Linked DNA regions of Homo sapiens: region 2 is linked to region 1. Evidence: fine-mapped expression QTL. Tissue or cell type: lung. Region 1 holds a variant in brackets; the other region holds the start of a gene. All regions are shown on one strand. Distances are from middle to middle.

Region 1 (4,217 bases):
GGGCAGGCATGGTGGCTTACACCTATAGTCCTGGTACTTTGGGAGGATCACTTGAGGCCAGGACTTTGAGACCAGCCTGGGAAATATAATGAGAACTTGTCTCTACAAAAGAAAAAAAAATTTAAAAAAATTAAAAATTAGCCAGGAGTGTTGGCACACATCTGTAGTTCCACCTACTCAGGAGGTTGAACAGGAAGATTGCTTGAGTCCTGGAGGTGGAGGCTGCAGTGAGCAATGATAGTGCTTTTGCACTTCGGCTAGGCGTTAGAGCAAGAGCCTGTCTCGAAAAACCAACCAACAAACAAAAACAGTTCTTCCCATAAAGAGAGTATAACCCATTATTTAGGACAGGAAACAACCTGGAATAGGAGAGAGAAAGGGCACACTGAGGATACCAAAGAAAGATCCATCCTGCACTTGGAGAGGTGAAGGCCAAAAGATCTTGGAGGAAGAAACATGAAGGGCCAATTTGTGTGAGCAGAAAGCTCTGCAATTGTGTGGGGCCTGTGGCATTTAATTCGGTGGCACTCACAGGGTGGCTTGGGTGTGTGGCTCCAGCACAGCTCATGGTTGCATAAGGTCCAGAGTCCTGCGTAGAGCTCAAGGCCATTCTTGATCACCAGAAACTGTACCCAGTTCAGTGGGGACATGGCGATCAGCATTAGGAGGCTAAAACTACAGAGGCTGCCACAGAGCGTTCGGATGTAGATGTGTGCCTGATCCATAAGCTGCTGCTGCCTTTGGCATGACATCGAGGCACTTGGATGTTTCTTGGCAGGGACGGTAGGCTACAAGGATGAGGGAAATATTGCCTACCCGAAAGAATAACCCCTGATCCCCAGGGTCACCCGCTCTTCTCTACCTCAAGCATTCCCATGTGTGTTTGATTTATAGATATTTTTCCCTACTCCTAAAAAAAAAAAACCCCACAATTTTCAGGGTGATCTTTTCTGTCTTTAGGATGCTCTGTGTAGCCCTGCCTTTAAGTAAGTTCTCTTCTTCCCATCTGACTTTCAATTAGATACCTCCTCACCCTTTGGTATTTCCGGTTCCCCTTTATTTTGGGAACCTCAGGACTGTGGAAAGTCAAGGTTAAATGTTCCCTTCGCTCCATCTTGGCAGTTAGTTCTCTAACTGCCACGGAATTTGTCTCTGCATCTCCTCACACATGCTGGCAGAAGCAAAAAGGGCCAGGACCCATGGCATAGATCCTGTTTCTGTTTTATATTTTTGATCTGGTCAGATCAGGAAGAAATCACCACATTTTAAGCATGTGCATGTATGTGTGATGCTCCCCACCCTCCATTCTCCACCTACTCCCAACTCTTTTATTAAATAAATCCACAAACATTTTGTTAGCAGTGGCTGTGTGTCAGGCTTTGTGCTAGCTTCTGGGACACAAAAATAAATAAGACACAGTTCCCTCATAGCAAATAAAAAAAGGGGAACTCATATGCTTGTTGGCCACATGTGTTTCTTCTTTTGAAAAGTGTTCATGCCCTTTGCCCACTTTTTAATGGGGTTATTTGTCTTTTTCTTGTAAATTTATTTGAGTTCCTTACAGATGCTGGATATTAGACCTTTGTCAGATGCATAGTTTGCAAAAAAATTTTCCCTTTCTGTAGGTTTTCTGTGTACGCTATTGATAGTTTCTTTTGCTATGCAGAAGCTCTTTAGTTTAATTAGATCCCATTTGTCAATTTTTGCTTTTGTTGCAATTGCTTTTTGCATCTTCATCATGAAATCTTTGCTGGTTTCTATGTTCAGATCATTAGAGAAATTAATCTTTGTATTTTTTTTTTAATTTTTTTATTTTTTTATTGATCATTCTTGGGTGTTTCTCGCAGAGGGGGATTTGGCAGGGTCATAGGACAATAGTGGAGGGAAGGTCAGCAGATAAACAAGTGAACAAAGGTCTCTGGTTTTCCTAGGCAGAGTGTTTGTGTCCCTGGGTACTTGAGATTAGGGAGTGGTGATGACTCTTAACGAACATGCTGCCTTCAAGCGTCTGTTTAACAAAGCACATCTTGCACCGCCCTTAATCCATTTAACCCTGAGTGGACACAGCACATGTTTCAGAGAGCACAGG[GT/T]TGGGGGTAAGGTCATAGATCAACAGGATCCCAAGGCAGAAGAATTTTTCTTAGTACAGAACAAAATGAAAAGTCTCCCATGTCTACTTCTTTCTACACAGACACAGCAACCATCCGATTTCTCATTCTTTTTCTCACCTTTCCCCCTTTTCTATTCCACAAAACCGCCATTGTCATCATGGCCCGTTCTCAATGAGCTGTTGGGTACACCTCCCAGACGGGGTGGTGGCCGGGCAGAGGGGCTCCTCACTTCCCAGTAGGGGCGGCCAGGCAGAGGCGCCCCTCACCTCCCGGACGGGGCGGCTGGCCGGGCGGGGGGCTGACCCCCCACCTCCCTCCCGGACGGGGCGGCTGGCCGGACAGAGGGGCTCCTCACTTCCCAGTAGGGGCGGCCGGGCAGAGGCGCCCCTCACCTCCCGGACGGGGCGGCTGGCCGGGCAGGGGGCTGACCCCCCACCTCCCTCCCGGACGGGGCTGCTGGCCGGGCAGAAGGGCTCCTCACTTCCCAGTAGGGGCGGCCGGGCAGAGGTGCCCCTCACCTCCCGGACGGGGCGGCTGGCCGGGTGGGGGGCTGACCCCCCACCTCCCTCCCGGACGGGGCGGCTGGCCTGGCGGGGGCTGACCCCCACCTCCCTCCCGGACAGGGTGGCTGCTGGGCGGAGACGCTCCTCACTTCCCAGACGGGGTGGCAGCAGGGCGGAGGGGCTCCTCACTTCTCAGACGGGGCGGTTGCCAGGCGGGGGGTCTCCTCACTTCTCAGACAGGGCAGCTGGGCAGAGACGCTCCTCACCTCCCAGACAGGGTCGCGGCCAGGCCGAGGCGCTCCTCACATCCCAGACGGGGCAGCAGGGCAGAGGCGCTCCCCACATCTCAGACGATGGGCGGCCGGGCAGAGACGCTCCTCACTTCCTAGATGGGATAGCGGCCGGGAAGAGGCGCTCCTCACTTCCTAGGTGTGATGGCGGCCGGGCAGAGACACTCCTCACTTTCCAGACTGGGCAGCCAGGCAGAGGGGCTCCTCACATCCCGGACGATGGGCGGCCAGGCAGAGACGCTCCTCACTTCCCAGACGGGGTGGCGGCCGGGCAGAGGCTGCAATCTCGGCACTTTGGGAGGCCAAGGCAGGCGGCTGGGAGGTGGAGGTTGTAGCGAGCCGAGATCACGCCACTGCACTCCAGCCTGGGCACCATTGAGCACTGAGTTAACGAGACTCCGTCTGCAATCCCGGCACCTCGGGAGGCCGAGGCTGGCGGATCACTCGCGGTCAGGAGCTGGAGACCAGCCCGGCCATCACAGCGAAACCCCGTCTCCACCAAAAAAATACGAAAACCAGTCAGGCGTGGCGGCGCGCGCCTGCAATTGCAGGCACTCGGCAGGCTGAGGCAGGAGAATCAGGCAGGGAGGTTGCAGTGAGCCGAGATGGCAGCAGCACAGTCCAGCTTCGGCTCGGCATGAGAGGGAGACTGTGGAAAGAGAGGGAGAGGGAGACCGTGGAAAGAGGGGAGAGGGAGAGGGAGACCGTGGAAAGAGGGGAGAGGGAGAGGGAGAGGGAGACCGTGGAAAGAGAGGGAGAGGGAGAGGGAGACCGTGGAAAGAGGGGCAGATCATTAGAGAAATTAAAACCACAATGAGATACCATCTCACACCAGTCAGAATGGCTACTATAAAAAGTCAAAAAAATAACAGACTGTGGCGAGGTTGTGGAGAAAAAGGAACACATACACTGTTGATGGGAGTGTAAATTATTAATTCAAACATTGTGGAAAGCAGTGTGATGATTCCTCAAAGACATGAAGACAGAAAGAACTACCATTTGACCCAGCAATCCCATTTTTGGGTATATGCCCAAAGGGATAGAAATCATTCTATCATAGAGACACATGCACATGTATGTTCACTGAAGCACTATTCACAATAGCAAAGACATGGAATCAACATAAATTCCCACCAATCGTAGACTGGATAAAGAAAATGTGGCACATATCCACCATGGAATACTATGCAGCTATAAAAAGAACAAGATCATGTGCTTTGCAGGAAGATGGGTGGAGCTGGAGGCCATTATCCTTAGCAAACTAATGCAGGAACAGAAAACCAAATACTGCATGTTCCTACTTATCAGTGGGA
Region 2 (4,217 bases), 200 kb after region 1:
ACAGCCCAGAGCCTGGCTGCCCATCATGTGGCCCCACCCAATCAAGGGAAGAAGGAGGAATGCTGGACTGGAGGCCCCTGGAGCCAGATGGCAAGAGGGTGACAGCTTCCTTTCCTGTGTGTACTCTGTCCAGTTCCTTTAGAAAAAATGGATGCCCAGAGGACTCCCAACCCTGGCTTGGGGTCAAGAAACAGCCAGCAAGAGTTAGGGGCCTTAGGGCACTGGGCTGTTGTTCCATTGAAGCCGACTCTGGCCCTGGCCCTTACTTGCTTCTCTAGCTCTCTAGGCCTCTCCAGTTTGCACCTGTCCCCACCCTCCACTCAGCTGTCCTGCAGCAAACACTCCACCCTCCACCTTCCATTTTCCCCCACTACTGCAGCACCTCCAGGCCTGTTGCTATAGAGCCTACCTGTATGTCAATAAACAACAGCTGAAGCACCTGTTTCCTCTCTTTTCTGCTGGGGAGGGGGAGGTGGTTGAACCCTGCCCTCTGAGCAGGCTGGGAATGGCTGCAGCCTCGTGCCCCGCAGTGGGAGCTATGGTGGTGTCACCTGCCATCCTGCCCACCTCCTGGTGCAGAGGCGCTGGGAAAGCAGTAGCTTACTATCTTAGGGTTACAGGTTGCCCCCTTCAGTGCTGCGGGGAGACTTTAATGGCTTACGTGAACCGAAGATGGGAAAGAGCAGGGACAAGGCCTCCCTCCCACTCTGGTAGATAAACCCAAATTGCAAAGTGGCCTTGGCCATGGTTCTTCCACTTTGGTCTTCCTGCATTAGCGTATCCCTTATGGGGGCTGTAGGAGGAGTCAGCTCTGGGCGCCTGAGACTGGGTTTGGCTCCCAGGTCCTCAGTTGTGGACCTAGGCTCCCCTTGGGACCCCTCCTGTTTGCTGGTGCCCTCCCACCATGATGCTGTAGTGCCAAAGGGCTGGGGGAGAGAGTTGGGAATGGGACCAAATCTGGCCTGCGCTTTTCCTCTCCCCTGACCACACTCCCAAGGACCAAGTGTCCTGGTGGGGATGGAAGAGGAAAGGGCCTGCAGGCCAGGCAAAAGCTCATTGTCACACTGAGCGCACGTGCCTCTGCTTCCCTGCCTTTGATTTGTGTCCACCTTCAGCCCCTTTGCAGACTCCTCCAAAAGTGTATTTCCTTGGAGAAACTGCAATGTTAACTCCGGCAAAAGTGCGTGGGAGCATCCTGGCTCCCGGGTTCGTGGTGGTGACTTGGCTGTCAGACCATGGTGTTCAATATCCCCTTTGGTGTTCCCCACTGACGGTAAAATTGAAACTTATCCGGAGCTCTATGTTGGGAAGGGTTAGGTTGGAGAGGGGCCGGAATTGGTTCCTGCAGAGGGACCCAAGCCGCAAGACTAGGACGACAGAAGCGTCCAGAGGGGACACAATACCCTCGACGTGAGGGACAGGAGGTGCCGCGCCAGGCCCTGGCCTCCGGGACCTCCCAGTCCGGGGAACCGAGCGCTAGGATCTGCTCAGAGCTTGGAGCCCCACCTGGGGAAGGTGGGGAAGGAGAGAAGCTGGGGAAGCTGGGGAATGAGGGGGAGGAACGGCCAATGGGCTGTGCCCGGCCCGCGCGACCCGCCAATGGGCGGGCGGGCGGGGCGGGCTCTCGACGGGGCGGGCGGGGTCCGGCGGGCGCTGGGTCCCGGCGCGCGGTCGGGGCGCTGGGTGCAGGCGCCGGGATGACCGCTTTAAGCCGGAGCGAGGCCACCGAGGAGGGCGGGTAAGGGGTTGCGGCCCGGGGGCCGGTCTCGGGGGTTCCGGAGGCCGCCGCGAGGGGCTGCTGCCGCGCGGGGCAGGACGGCTCCTGGGGCCGCGGCAACTCGGCGCGTTCTGCCCACGGGGCAGGCACTTCCCGGCCGCCGGAATGCGGGCTCCGGGCCAGAGCTGCACCGCGCGCCCAGGCGTCTCCCGGGGCCCGCGAGGTGTTCGCACTAGGACCGGGTGTCTTGGCTGAGTCTGCTGCGACCTGGGGGATGAGGGACGGTCCCGGCAGCATCGGGGCAAGGAAGGGCACCCTCCTCGGGACGCCCCGCATGGCCCATCTCCGCCTCGCCACTCTGTTCATCCTTTCATTTATTCATTCATCATTCGTTGCCCGCGGTATCGACTCCCAGTCCTAATTGCCCCCGACCCAAAGGTTGGATTTCCCTGCGTCCCCTGGAGGGCCAGACTGTTTCCTCTCGCCGCCGAATCCGTATTGTAGCGGCCCGCGGCTGCGGGGAGGCAGCTCGGAGCTGTCTCAGCACGACGCGGCCTCCCCCGGGCGCCAGGCCCATCCCGGTCGGGCGGGCTGGGGCCGGTCTCCCGGCCTCGAGACCTGGTCCAAAGTCGCCCTGGGAGAAAGGGATAAGGAGGCAGGGCAGACAGGAGCTGGCGCTGCACGTAACATCCAGAATTGTGGTTTCTGCTGCTTGAGGTCTTAGGGTCCTGGGAGTGACATTGTTTGGGGGAACCTGTCAATTCCTGCCCCGGTCCAGGTTCCAAGCCGCACAGCCTAAGGTCGGGTACAGCCTGGCATCCTCGGCCAGCTAGCACTGGGGCAGGTAGGATGAATGTGTGAGCCTTGTGTCCAAATCAGCCCGAGACACACAGGGATGTGGACCCCAGCGGGACTCCCTCTGCCTTATACTCAGAGGGACTGGTGGGGCTCCACCCCGCTGTCGTCTGTGTCTCTGCTCTGCTTGCCGCCCCACTCACTATGCTTGATTGTTTAAAGGTGCCCCTCCTTGCAGGGGCCAGGCTCCTAGGGAACGAGAGAGGGTACCCTCGCAACCTGATGTCTTCACCCCATGTCCACCTGTAGCCGGCTCTAAAGTCTGGCTCCTTTCAGAGCAAAGACTTATGGCCTTGCTGGGAGAGGTAGAATAGAGGGTGTCTATCCCATTCTTCAGTGAGGAGTCAGTATGCCCCTCCTTCTTTTTTCTTTTTTTTTTTTCTGAGACAGTTTCACTCTGTCACCCAGGCTGGAGTGCCGTGGTGGGATCTTGGCTCACTGCAACCTCTGCCTCCCAGGTTCAAGTGATCCTCCTGCCTCAGCCTCCCGAGTAGCTGGGATTACAGGTGCCCACCACCACGCCCAGCTAATTTTTGTATTTTTAGTAGAGATGGGGTTTCACCATGTTGGCCAGGCTGGTCTTGAACTCCTGACCTCAGGTGATCCACCCACCTCAGCCTCCCAAAGTGCTAGCATTACAGGGACTACAGGTGTGAGCCACGTGCCTGGCCCCCTCCATAGTCTTCTGATCAGGCTGGCTGGAGACCATGCTGCAGACACTCTTAGGTTTAAGTTTTAGTTTGACAGGCATTGAGGTAGCCTCAGTGGGCACCTCTGGGACAAATGGGCAGGTCCAGAGGGGAAAGCTGACAGAGGCCCCATCGAGCTTCCAGGAGAGTTTAGGCTGGGGCCAAATAGAAGTTCTCCTTCCCAACTTCCCCTTGGGAGAATTTTCTGAATAGCCTGAAGAGGGTAGCTCAAGCTCCATCTGTGCCTTGATGTTGCTGGCTGCTTTCAAATTTCTTTCTTTTTTTTTGAGACGGAGTTTTGCTCTTGTTACCCAGGCTGGAGTGCAATGGCGTGATCTCGGCTCACTGCAGTCTCCGCCTCCTGGGTTCAAGTGATTCTCCTGCCTCAGCCTCCCGAGTAGGTGGGATTACAGGCATGCGCCACCACACCCGGCTAATTTTGTATTTTTTAGTAGAGACGGGGTTTCTCCATGTTGGTCAGGCTGGTCTCCAACTCTCGACCTCAGGTGAGCTGCTCACCTCAGCCTCTCAAAGTGCTGGGATTACAGGTGTGAGCCACTGCACCTGGCCTCAAATTTCTAAATTTAGCAAGGCCCCAAAGCTTTGGCACAGACCAGAGAGACTTGTATGCTAATTCATCCACCTAGGGTGCTCCCGTGACCCCCTGAGGTTGAGGTCGGCAGTACCCAAGGTGGGTTGCTGCCAGCTGGCCTCTTGGAAGCTCTCCCATGAGCTGCTGCGCTGTTAGTGCCTCCTGGGTGGCTCCACCCCGCCCCTAACCTGCTTAGGTTCGCTCTGGTCCTTGCCTGCCACGGACCATGTTTATCAGCTGGAGGGAAGAGCCTCACTCTGGAATCAGAAGTGAGTTCTAAGCCTCAGGCTGTTCCTGTTTTGCTGCGACTTGGGACAAGTCACTTCCGCTTTCTGGGCCTGCTTTACACCATAAGGTAAGGAGA

Evidence for each region. PIP is the estimated chance that this variant, and not a neighbour inherited with it, causes the effect.
Region 2: GRAMD2A starts here. The variant in region 1 is the best candidate, but not a certain one, in a credible set for the expression of GRAMD2A in lung (TOPMed, PIP 0.66).

Annotation. Positions count from the first base shown.
Region 1 is chr15:72,395,224-72,399,440 of GRCh38, reverse strand. It overlaps TMEM202 (transmembrane protein 202), which reads right to left and starts at 1,136. Exons shown (of 5, transcript NM_001080462.3): 1 at 1,034-1,136; 2 at 533-788. The coding sequence starts at 1,114. The variant GT/T (reference allele first, on the strand shown) is at 2,090.
Region 2 is chr15:72,195,252-72,199,468 of GRCh38, reverse strand. GRAMD2A (GRAM domain containing 2A) reads left to right here and starts at 1,682. Exons shown (of 12, transcript NM_001012642.3): 1 at 1,682-1,738. The coding sequence starts at 1,698. It overlaps PKM (pyruvate kinase M1/2), which reads left to right. Exons shown (of 11, transcript NM_002654.6): 11 at 1-440. RefSeq lists a silencer at 1,535-1,954 and an enhancer at 2,065-2,244.